3 linked regions of the Homo sapiens genome follow. The protein of the gene in region 2 interacts with the protein of the main gene of each other region in a biochemical or structural test. Each region holds a gene or a part of one and is shown on either strand. Other genes may lie near its edges.

Evidence for each region.
Region 1: of the proteins of MARK4 (region 2) and NEDD4, one has a biochemical effect on the other in vitro, tested with the Homo sapiens proteins (one large-scale study listed by BioGRID).
Region 3: of the proteins of MARK4 (region 2) and MAPT, one has a biochemical effect on the other in vitro, tested with the Homo sapiens proteins (2 studies listed by BioGRID).

What each region holds. Positions count from the first base shown.
Region 1 is NC_000015.10:55,836,511-55,840,161, forward strand, and holds part of NEDD4 (E3 ubiquitin-protein ligase NEDD4), read right to left. Parts: intron 2,095-3,651; coding exon 1,999-2,094; intron 1,671-1,998; coding exon 1,597-1,670; intron 1,340-1,596; coding exon 1,279-1,339; intron 1-1,278. UniProt on the Homo sapiens protein: E3 ubiquitin-protein ligase which accepts ubiquitin from an E2 ubiquitin-conjugating enzyme in the form of a thioester and then directly transfers the ubiquitin to targeted substrates. Specifically ubiquitinates 'Lys-63' in target proteins.
Region 2 is NC_000019.10:45,254,133-45,257,783, forward strand, and holds part of MARK4 (MAP/microtubule affinity-regulating kinase 4), read left to right. Parts: intron 1-3,651. UniProt on the Homo sapiens protein: Serine/threonine-protein kinase. Phosphorylates the microtubule-associated protein MAPT/TAU. Also phosphorylates the microtubule-associated proteins MAP2 and MAP4.
Region 3 is NC_000017.11:45,988,485-45,992,135, forward strand, and holds part of MAPT (microtubule-associated protein tau), read left to right. Parts: intron 1-1,393; coding exon 1,394-1,591; intron 1,592-2,975; coding exon 2,976-3,102; intron 3,103-3,651. UniProt on the Homo sapiens protein: Promotes microtubule assembly and stability, and might be involved in the establishment and maintenance of neuronal polarity.

The sequences.
Region 1 (3,651 bases), on a different chromosome or scaffold from region 2:
CACATGCCATGACACCAGGCTAATTTTTTTTTTGAGACGGAGTCTCGCTCTGTTGCCCAGGATGGAGTGCAGTGGCGTAATCTTGGCTCACTGCAACCTCTGCCTCTCAGGTTCAAGCAATTCCCCTGCCTCAGCCTCCCGAGTAGCTGGGACTGCACGTGCACGCCACCACGTCCGGCTAATTTTTTTGTATTTTTAGTAGAGACAGGGTTTCACCACATTAGCCAGACTAGTCTCAAACTCCTGACCTCAGGCAATCTGCCCACCTCGGACTCCCAAAGTGCTGGGATCACAGGAATGAGCCACCGCGCCCAAATTTTTAATTTTTTATAGAGATAAGGTCTCCCTATGTTGTCCACGTTGGTCTCGAACTCCTGGGCTCAAGCAATCCTCCCGCCTCAGCCTCCTCAAGTGTTGGGATTTTAGGCGTCAGCCACCATGCCCAGCCAGATACATATTTAACAGAAGATTGTAAGTTAGCTTAAGAAATGAGTGCTCTGACAATCTGTCTACCAATTGGAAAAATTTAAGTAACTTTTTAATTTATATTCTGAATAAAATATAGCCACAAAGAAAGGCAGCTATATGTCGTCACATGTAAATATCCCTAATAAATATCTGATAAAAGAAGAAAGTAGGCCGAGCACGGTGGCTCACACTGGTAACCCCAGCACTTTGGGAGGCCAAGGTGGATGGATCACTTGAGGTCTGGAGTTTGAGACCAGCCCGACCAACATGGTGAAACCATGTCTCTACTAAAAATACAAAAATTAGCCAGGCGTGGTGGCGGGCACCTGTAATCCCAGCTACTCAGGAGGCTGAGGCAGGAGAATTGCTTGAACCTGGGAGGTGCAGGTTGCAGTGAGCCGAGATCACGCCACTGCATTCCAGCCTGGGCGACAAAGTGACTCACTCCGCGCTCAAAAAAAAAAAAAAAAGAAGAAAGTAAGTCACAAAACAAAATGTGTAAGGTGATCCTATTTAGAAAAACAAACAATATGTTATACTATCCCTAAAGCACTCTTGTTCTTTTGCTGTCCTAAAGTGAAGAGAATGGAATAGGGAAAAGGCTTGGGGGAAAGGGGACCTGTCCATGTTTATTGTCTAGACTTCTTGAATGACTGAATGGAATATTTAGTTAATATAAAAATATAATTTAGAATGATTTCACAAAACAAGCCATATACTTATTTTTCTCAGATGTGATGAGGCCTAATATTTGAAACTTATAGGTTATACTGTGACATTATGGAAGAGCAAATAAAAGAAAATGAATACCTCTTTAAAAGCAGCCATTTGCTTCTGGATTCGGTTTACAAATCGCCATTGTATTACAAGACTAAAAAGAAACAACATTTCATTTTCATGTGAACCAAGACAAAATTCTGAGGCACAATTATTCTAGTTAGAAACAAAAACTAAAGGCTAGCTGAGACCAAGGTAAAAGCTGAATATGAGTGCTTGCTACTGCATTGTGATAGAGAAAAAGAACACTGAGATTCTGGACAAGGGGACAGAGAAAGATGGTAAGAAGAGTCTTTCTGGAATAAAGTACAAAATTATATCCAATAAAATACATACTAATAAAATACTTACTAAATATATTCCTTTTTGTTCTTATTGGTGACAACTATTTCTGATCCACCATTTTTCAGCTCATGTTGATGTGTCTAAAATTAAACACAATAACTTGATATGTTATTTTAGCGAGAAAAATTTAAAAAGTATACATATTGTAGTTATACGAGAAACTTGGTGTTTTAAATTAAGTCCAGTCAAAAGTTAAAAACTAAGAAAACTTAAAATACTAGTTTTACTAAAATAAATATGGAACGAGTCAAATGTTAAAGAAAGTACAAATTCTTGCTCAGAGACAGCTTTTGTTACTGGGAAATGAATGTAAAAACAGAGCCTAGGAATGTATTAAGTGTACGTATTAACATCTAAACATTTGTCTCACAATTTATGTGCCATTTTAACTGATCAAAATTCACAAACCTGTCCAAAAAGTTCTTCATCTATGATAAACCTGAGGTCCAATTCTGTTGGGTCATTTTCAAGAATCCATCTTAGGGAATTGTAATATTCACTATCCTAGATGGGAAAAATTACATATTTAAAATTTGTATCTATAACACACCTGAAATTGCAAAAAACAGTATGTAGAGGGTCTGAATAATTGGGTAAAAGATGAGAGGTCAGATGGACATCCTTTACTTACACACATATATAAACAAAAATGTATGTGTGTATGTGTGTGTATTACAAAAAGAGATGGATGACAGGTAAGGGCAAGAGTAAAAATGCATCAATCAATTAATCAATTGGTGCCTACTTAAAAGTTTAGAATCTATGTTTATGTGGAAGCAGTGGAGGTACAGATTTTATCATCCAGTTAAAGGAATGAATACAGAAGTTTTCAGATAAAACCTAACTTCTCTGGATATCCAGGAGCACTTAGCACATTCCTCATATGCCTATGTGACTTCGTGTTAAATGTTTTATTTTTATTTTTTAATTTAATTTTTTTTTTTTTGAGACAGGGTCTCGCTCTGTCCCTTAGGTTGGAGTGCAGTGGGGCGACTGTGGCTCACTGCAGCCTCGACCTCCTTGACTCAAGTGATCCTCCTACCTCAGCCTCCCAAGTAGCTGGGACTACAGGCGCGCACCACCACGCCTGGCTAATTTTTGTATTTTTTGTAGAGACAGAGTATCACCATGTTGGCCAGGCTGGTCTCAAACTCCTGACCTCAAGTGATCCACCTGCCTCAGCTTCCCAAAGTGCTGGGATTACAGTTGCACACCCCTGTGTCCGGCACTAAGTGTGAAATGTTTAAGTAGCTATGAGGAGGCCATTGTTTATACCCAGCCCGAGTTAAAGAAAAATCTCTTAATAAATATAGAGGCTCAATGAACCAACTCAAGTAACTGTGCAATCTTATGATTTATAAAGAATCACACTGTTTGTGCTGTTAATATGTAATAAGAAAAGAATAAAAAATGAACTTGGTACTAAGGAAGATGCCCTGGAATTCATGTGAACACACATTGTGTGAGGCTATTCAGCAGCACAGGAAACAACACGGCTACAGTCCGGGGTTTAATCCTTGGGCTTCTGTTTTTTTCTAGGAACCTAACCATAACGCTTTGCCTTTCGACTGCCATTTAAAAAATATACACCATTTGGCCAGGTGCGGTGGCTCATGCCTGTAATCCCAGCACTTTGGGACGCTGAGGCAGGCGGATAACGAGGTCAAAAGACTGAGACCATCCTGGTGAACACGGTGAAACCCCGTCTCTACTAAATATACAAAAATTAGCTGAGTGTGGTGGTGCGCGCCTGTAGTCCCAGCTACACAGGAGGCTGAGGCAGAGAATTGCTTGAACTTGGAAAGCAGAGGTTGCAGTGAGCCAAGATCACGCCACTGCACTCCAGCTTGGCAACAGAGTGACACTCTGTCTCAAAAAAAAAAAAAAAAAAAAAAAAAAATATATATATATATATATATATATATATATATATATATATATAACATTCATCATAAAAGATCATAATGCAAATACTGATTCAAAAGACATATAACTTGGTATAACCTATTGAAGTATTTAGTGGGATGTTTAATGTTATCTATAACTTACTCTGAAATGCAT
Region 2 (3,651 bases):
CAAGTTCCAGGGCCCCCCACCAGGGGGCCAGCCTCCCCAGGTTCCCTAGCAACAGTCCCGGGTGTTGGGGCGCCAGCCGGGCGGGAGGGAGCCAGGCCAGCTGGTGGTGCAGGCCAATTTTAGCTCCCACCCCCGGCCCCCAGGGGCTTTGTCACCCACTGCCCCAGCTGCCCCTCGCAGGGGTCCCTCAGCCATGCTGCCTTCAGCGTGGTGCCATCCCACCTCCAGCTGGCTGCCCTGGCGCCACCTGACAGGGCTTCTTCTCCAGGTCCTTATCTTGGTGGGGATCGGAGGCCTTATCTCCAGGATCTCCACCTGCCTCCCTGGTCTCTCCTGGGAAGAAGCCTGGGCCTGTGGGGAAGCCTGGCTCAGCACTCAGGAGGAATCAGCAGGCCGGGGTTCGCATCCCAGCACTCTGCTCCATCTGCCCTGTGACCTTGGGGGAGGGACTCCCCCTGCCTGAGCCTGGGTGTCCCCGTCTGAAGACTGCAGATCATAATTGGACCCACATTGGAGGCCAGGGTGAGGGCACGGCAGGCAGTGGCGGACGCGTGGTTAGAGCCCTGGCCGTGGTGGTTGGAACTGCCCAGCTGTGGGGAGGTTGTCTTTCTGCCCCTGTGAATGGACTGTGTGACCTTCACATGGCACCTTCCCTCTCCAAGGCTCAGTTTCTCTGCTGGAACATGGAGTCATTCCCTGGGCTACTGCAGGAATTAAGTGTAGGCGAGTTACCTGTTTACACAGGACTTGGTCCATAGCATGAGCTGCTTTGTAGAAATGGTTCATGACCCAGCGTGGTAGCTCACACCTATAATCCCAGAACTTTGGGAGACCCAGGCAGGAGGATGGCTTGAGCCTGGGAGCTGAAGACTAGCCCGGACAACATAGCAAGACTCCATCTCTACAAAAAAATTTAAAAATCAGCTGTGTGTGGTGGTGCACTCCTGTGGTCCCAGCTACTCAGGAGCCTGAGATGGGAGGATTTGCTTGAACCCAGGCAGTTGAGGCTCCAGTGAGCCTTGATTACACCACTGCACTTCAGCCTGGGTAACAGAGCAAGGCCCTGTCTCAAAAAAAAAAAAAAGGTTCAGGTGTGAGAGGCAGTGTGGTATTGTGACAGAGAAGAGCATCAAGTCTGGTGGAAACTATCGGGCACGGTGGCTCATGCCTGTAATCCCAGCACTTTGGGAGGCCGAGGTGGGCAGATCACCTGAGGTCAGGAGTTCAAGACCAGCCTGGCCAACATGGTGAAACCCCCTCTTTACTAAAAATACAAAAATTAGACGGTTGTGGTGGCGGGCGTCTGTAATCCCAGCCACTCGGGAGGCTGAGGCAGGAGAATTGCTTGAACCCAGGAGGTGGAGGTTGCAGTGAGTTGAGATCGTGCCATTGCACTCCAGCCTGGGCAACAAGAGTGAAACTCTGCCAAAAAAAAAAAAAAAAAAAAAAAATACTGGTGGAAACTGTTTGGGTTCAGATCGTGGGTCCGGGTCTCACTTTCCCCACCTGTAAAATGGAGATAATAGTGTGGTAATGGCCTCATATTGCATCAATGACCAGCATTAATTAAACGTTAGTTGTCGTTGCTATCAAGTGGCCCGGCAGTGTCTTTCTCAGAGACTTGGGCCCCCAGCCCATCAGCCTCTTGGCCTTTCTTCCTCCCCTCCTGTTGTCCTCCTGCTTCCCACTCCCAGCCGGAAGGGCACAGGCAGAACTGCCTTGGCGGGAGGCCTCAGGCACCCTGAGCCCCAGCCCTGAAAGGGAGACAGTCCCTGGGGCTTCCAATCAGGCCAGGGCAGCTCAGAGCAGGCAGGTGACCTGCGGGGGAGAGAGGCCAGGGAGGGACAGGACAGTAGGAACAGAACATCAGGAGGAGAGAAGCCATGGTGTGGGAGACAGCAAGTCAGGGCGCTTCTCAAGCCCTGGGTGTTTCAGGGGGTGGCAGAAGCAACAGTGTTTCCCATGGAAGGAGGATAACAGGGATTCAACCAGGTCTCAGGGCCAGTGAAAGACTTGGTTACCCTGCAGGGGGTGGTGGCTCAGGCCTGTAATGCCAGCACTTTGGGAGGCCGAGGTGGGTGGATCACCTGAGGTCAGGAGTTCAAGACCAACCTGGCCAACATGATGAAACCTCGTCTCTACTAAAAATACAAAATTAACCAGGTGTGGTGGCACATGCCTGTAATCCCAGCTACTCGGGAAAGCTGAGGCAGGAGAATCGCTTGAACCCAGGAGGCAGAGGTTGCAGTGAGCCAGACTGGGCCACTGCACTCCAGCTTGGGCAACAAGAGTGAAACTCTGTGTCAAAAAGAAAAAAAATAAGACTTGGTTACAATGTTTGGAGTCCAATCTGGGGTAACAGTGATTGGAATCAAATGTTAGGGGCATTCCACTGGGAATCAAATGTTGACATTTGGGTTTGAAGTAGAATTTGGGGGCTGGAGAGGGGACAGTTGATGGGTAAAATAGCAAGTCAGGACCAGTGGTGGTGGAGGAGGAGCCTCGAGTCCAGATTGAGGTCAGCGTTGATTGGGGTTGAGGGCAGCCTCATTTAGGGCAAAATATTGTAGAGTTGATCCAGGCTCCAGGACAGGCATATCCTGCTTTTTCGCACTTTGCCTTATTGAGCTTCACAGATACAGTGTTTTCTACAAATTGAAGGTTTCTGACGACCCTGTGTTGAGCAAGCCTGTAGGCTCCATTTTTCCAACAGCCTGTGCACAATTTGTGTCTCTGTCACATTTTGGTAATTCACACAGTATTTCAAACTTTTTCATCATTATTATAATAGCTGTTATGGTGATCTGATATCAGTGATGTTTTTCCTCTTTTTTTTTTAGAGACAGGGTCTTGCTCTGTTGCCCAGGCTGGAGTGCAGTGGCATGATCATAGCTCACTGCAGCCTTAACCTCCTGGGGCTCAAGCGATCTTCCCATCTCAGCCCCCTGAGTAGCTGGGACTATAGGCATATGCCACCATGCCTAGCTAATTTTTTTTTTTTAAGTTTTTCTAGAGATGGGTGTCTCGCTTCATTGCCCAGGCTGGTCTCAAACTCCCTGGCTTCAAGCGATCCTCCCGCCTTGTCAATGATTTTGTTTTATTGTGATTCACTGAAGGTTCAGATGATTGTTAGCATCTTTTAACAAGAAAGTATTATAAAATTAAAGTATGTACATTGTTTTTATAGCTGTAATGCTATTATTGCACACTCAGTAGACTGCAGTATGATGTAAACACAATTTTTCTTTCTCTTTTTTTTTTTTTTTTTTGAGATGGAGTCCCACTCTGTCACCCAGACTGTAGTGCAGTGGCGCGATCTCAGCTCACTGCAACCTCTGCCTCCCTGGTTCAAGTGATTCTCCTGCCTCAGCCTCCTGAGTAGCTGGGATTACAGGTGCGCGTCACCATGTCCGGCTAATTTTTGTATTTTTAGTAGAGACGGGGTTTCCCCGTGTTGGCCAGGCAAGTTTCACACTCTGACCTCAGGTGATCCACCTGCCTTGGCCTCCCAAAGTGCTGGGATTACAGGCGTGAGCCACCTCGCCTGGCCCATAATATTTTTTTTTTTTTTTTTTGAGACAGAGTCTCGCTCTGTCACCCAGGCTGGAGTGCAGCGGCGCGATCTCGGCTCACTGCAAGCTCCACCTCCTG
Region 3 (3,651 bases), on a different chromosome or scaffold from region 2:
CTGCATCCTGGTTCCAGGGCCCCCCCCAGCCCCGCCTCCATAGGGACAGGCGTGCAGACACCCGTCCCTGGCTGCTTCCTCTTGTGGAATGGGTTCAAAAGTAAGCAGTGTTGTTTACACTGACAAACTGAAAAAAAAAGAAAAAGAGATAACATTGGAGGCTTGGCACAGTGGCTCATGCCTGTAATCCCAGCACTTTGGGAGGCTAAGGTGGGAGGATGTCCCCAGCCCAAGAGTTCTAGACCAGCCTGGGCAACATAGCAAGACCCCATCTCAAAAAAAAAATTTAATTGGCCAGGCAGAGGTGGGAGGATCACTTGAACCCAAAGGGTGGAGGCTGCAGTGAGCCGTGATGGCACCACTGCACTCCAGCCAGGGCAACAGAGGGAGACCCTGTCTCTAAAACAAACAAACAAACAAACAAACAAAAGAGTTAACATTGGCCAGATTAGGATTCACCAGATAGTGTTAATATTAGTTTGATTTGAGACTTTAATCAGAAAGCACATGTGTGGTGGGGGTGGGTGTAACCTAAGTCAGGTAGAATCTTTCCAACTTGGGGGGGGCACACTCCTGATTGTAGCCATATGAGTCTGTCAGTGTGGTGGAAGAGGCCATGGGTTAATGGGCAGGTAAAAAAGCACCTTGCCTGGAATTGAGTAGAAAGTAAGGCCCTTCAGACCCCGTGACACACTTGGGGACATTTTCTTGAGTAACATCCTAAGATTCATGTACCTTGATGATCTCCATCAACTTACTCATGTGAAGCACCTTTAAACCAGTCGTCTCCAAATTCAGGGGCACAGTAACATCCAACAGGCTGGAGAAAGAACGTACTAGAACTTCCATTCCTTTTTCATGTCCTCTTCTAAAAGCTTTGTCAGGGCCAGGCGCGGTGGCTCACGCCTGTAATCCCAGCACTTTGGGAGGCCGAGACGGGTGGATCACGAGGTCAGGAGATCGAGACCATCCTGGCTAACACAGTGAAACCCCATCTCTACTAAAAATACAAAAAAACGAGCCGGGCGTGGTGGTGGGCGCCTGTAGTCCCAGCTACTCGGGAGGCTGAGGCAGGAGAATGGCGTGAACCCAGGAGGCAGAGCTTGCAGTGAGCCGAGATTGCACCACTGCAGTCCAGCCTGGGCGACAGAGCGAGACTCCGTCTCAAAAAAGAAAAAGAAAAAGAAAAAGAACTGTGATTGGGGAGGACGGTCACTTTCCTGTTCTTACTGATCAGAAGGGATATTAAGGGTACCTGATTCAAACAGCCTGGAGATCACTGCTTTCAACCATTACCTGCCTTATTTATTTTTAGTTACTGTCCTTTTTTCAGTTTGTTTCCCTCCTCCATGTGCTGACTTTTATTTTGATTTTATTTATGTTTATGTTTAAGACATCCACACGTTCCTCTGCTAAAACCTTGAAAAATAGGCCTTGCCTTAGCCCCAAACACCCCACTCCTGGTAGCTCAGACCCTCTGATCCAACCCTCCAGCCCTGCTGTGTGCCCAGAGCCACCTTCCTCTCCTAAATACGTCTCTTCTGTCACTTCCCGAACTGGCAGTTCTGGAGCAAAGGAGATGAAACTCAAGGTAAGGAAACCACCTTTGAAAAGAACCAGGCTGCTCTGCTGTGGTTTGCAAATGTGGGGTTTGTTTATTTGTTTTTTAGCCTCAAAGACCTTTCTTCAAATGAGTTCTGGCATAGAAGCACCGTGTAAAATAGTTAGAATTCTGGGCAAAGGGGAAAAGAGAGCTGGGGGCCATCCCTCTCAGCACCCCACAGGCTCTCATAGCAGCAGCTCCTAAGACACCTGGTGGGACCTTGGTTTCGAAATCGCTACTCTAAGGCTGGGCACGGTGGCTCACACCTGTAATCCCAGCTCTTTAGGAGGCCGAGGAGGGTGGATCACCTGAGATCAGGAGTTCGAGACCAGCCTGGCTAACATGGCAAAACCCTGTCTCTACTAAAAATACAAAAATTAGCCGGGCGTGGTGGTATGCGTGGTGGTAATCGCAGCTACTCGGGAGGCTGAGGCACAAGGATTGCTTGAACCCCAGAGGCAGAGGTTGTAGTTAGCTCCAGCTTGGGCGACAGAGCAAGACCCTGTCGCAAAAATTGTTTAAAAAACAAACCCAAAATTGCTACTCTCATTGGGTTCCTTTGCCCATTCCTGATTTTGGCAAGAGAAATGCTTCCAGATTGCCCTGATCTGGGTAGGACAGCATCACGCCATAGCAACACTGCCCCGTGAGCTCACTGCCCCCTCAACTAGCTTGTGGTCCTTGGTTAATGTCAGTTTCTTTTTTGAGTTTGTGTTATGTCTAAGGGTCATCTGCTGGGTAACGGAACCCAGGGACTGCCCTAGTCCCTAGACTGTGCCATGCCCGACTCTGCCAGCTTTGTCAGTGATGCTGGTGCTCGCCTCCTCGGGTGCTCGCCTGGTCTGAGCACACCCAAGGAGTTCTTGAGGCCTTAGGGTTGTTTGCGAGAGAATGAAAGAACACGACCTAGCTCTCTTTAGCATCCTTGGTCAGGTTCAACACTGCCCCCAGGGGCCTCTGGTGGAGCCAACCACCATCAGCCAAATAAATCCATAATTAGAGTCAGAAAATGGATGTCTGCATATGTGTAGTGCACTAATGTCCTGCCGATGATTGACATGGAGTGGAGAGTGACCTGATCATTGCTGTGAGCTCTGCTGGCCTTGGCACAACTCATGCTGATAACTAATGCACACAGTTCCTCTGGGAGGAAATGTCCTCAGGGAACTTGGAGTTTGGGTGGGGATGTGGGTTTGTGTGCCCAGCAAGCCCTTGTGGTTGTAGCAGACACTAGTGGCATCTAGGAGGCAAAGGGTCACCCCAGTCTTAGCCACGTTTTGAGTCAAGGTGGCGGAGTGGGGCTGGTGTTGACTCTTGGTGGCAGTAACTTTTCCCAATGGTGAAAAACCCCTCTATCATGTTTCATTTACAGGGGGCTGATGGTAAAACGAAGATCGCCACACCGCGGGGAGCAGCCCCTCCAGGCCAGAAGGGCCAGGCCAACGCCACCAGGATTCCAGCAAAAACCCCGCCCGCTCCAAAGACACCACCCAGCTCTGGTAAGAAGAACGTTCTCTTGAATCTTAGAGGAAGCTGAAGCTCTCAGAGGTACAGCCTTCATTTTAGGAGGCCTTAGGCCACTGAGAATGAATAACCCCTGGCAGCTGGTCAGCAGCTTGCAGTTTACTAAGCACTGGAGTCTTCATTGCCTTCTCAGTCCTTTTGATTTCTGAGGCAAATGTTGAATCCCTACCTTTTTTTTTTTTTTTCTTTTGAGACAGAGTTTCGCTTTTGTTATCCAGGCCGGAGTGCAGTGGTGTGATCTCAGCTCACTGCATCCTCCACCTCCCAGGTTCAAGCGATTCTCCTACCTCAGCCTCCCTAGTAGCTGGGATTACAGGCACCTGCCACTATGCCCGGCTAATTTTTTGTATTTTTAGTAGAGACAGGGTTTCACCATGTTGGCCAGGCTGGTCTCGAACGCCTGACCTCAGGTGATCCACCTGCCTCGGCCTCCCAAAGTGCTGGGATTACAGGCATGAGCCACCACTCCCAGCCTGAATCCTCACTTTTTATCAATGAAGAAATTGAGGCTGATTCTGCAGCAT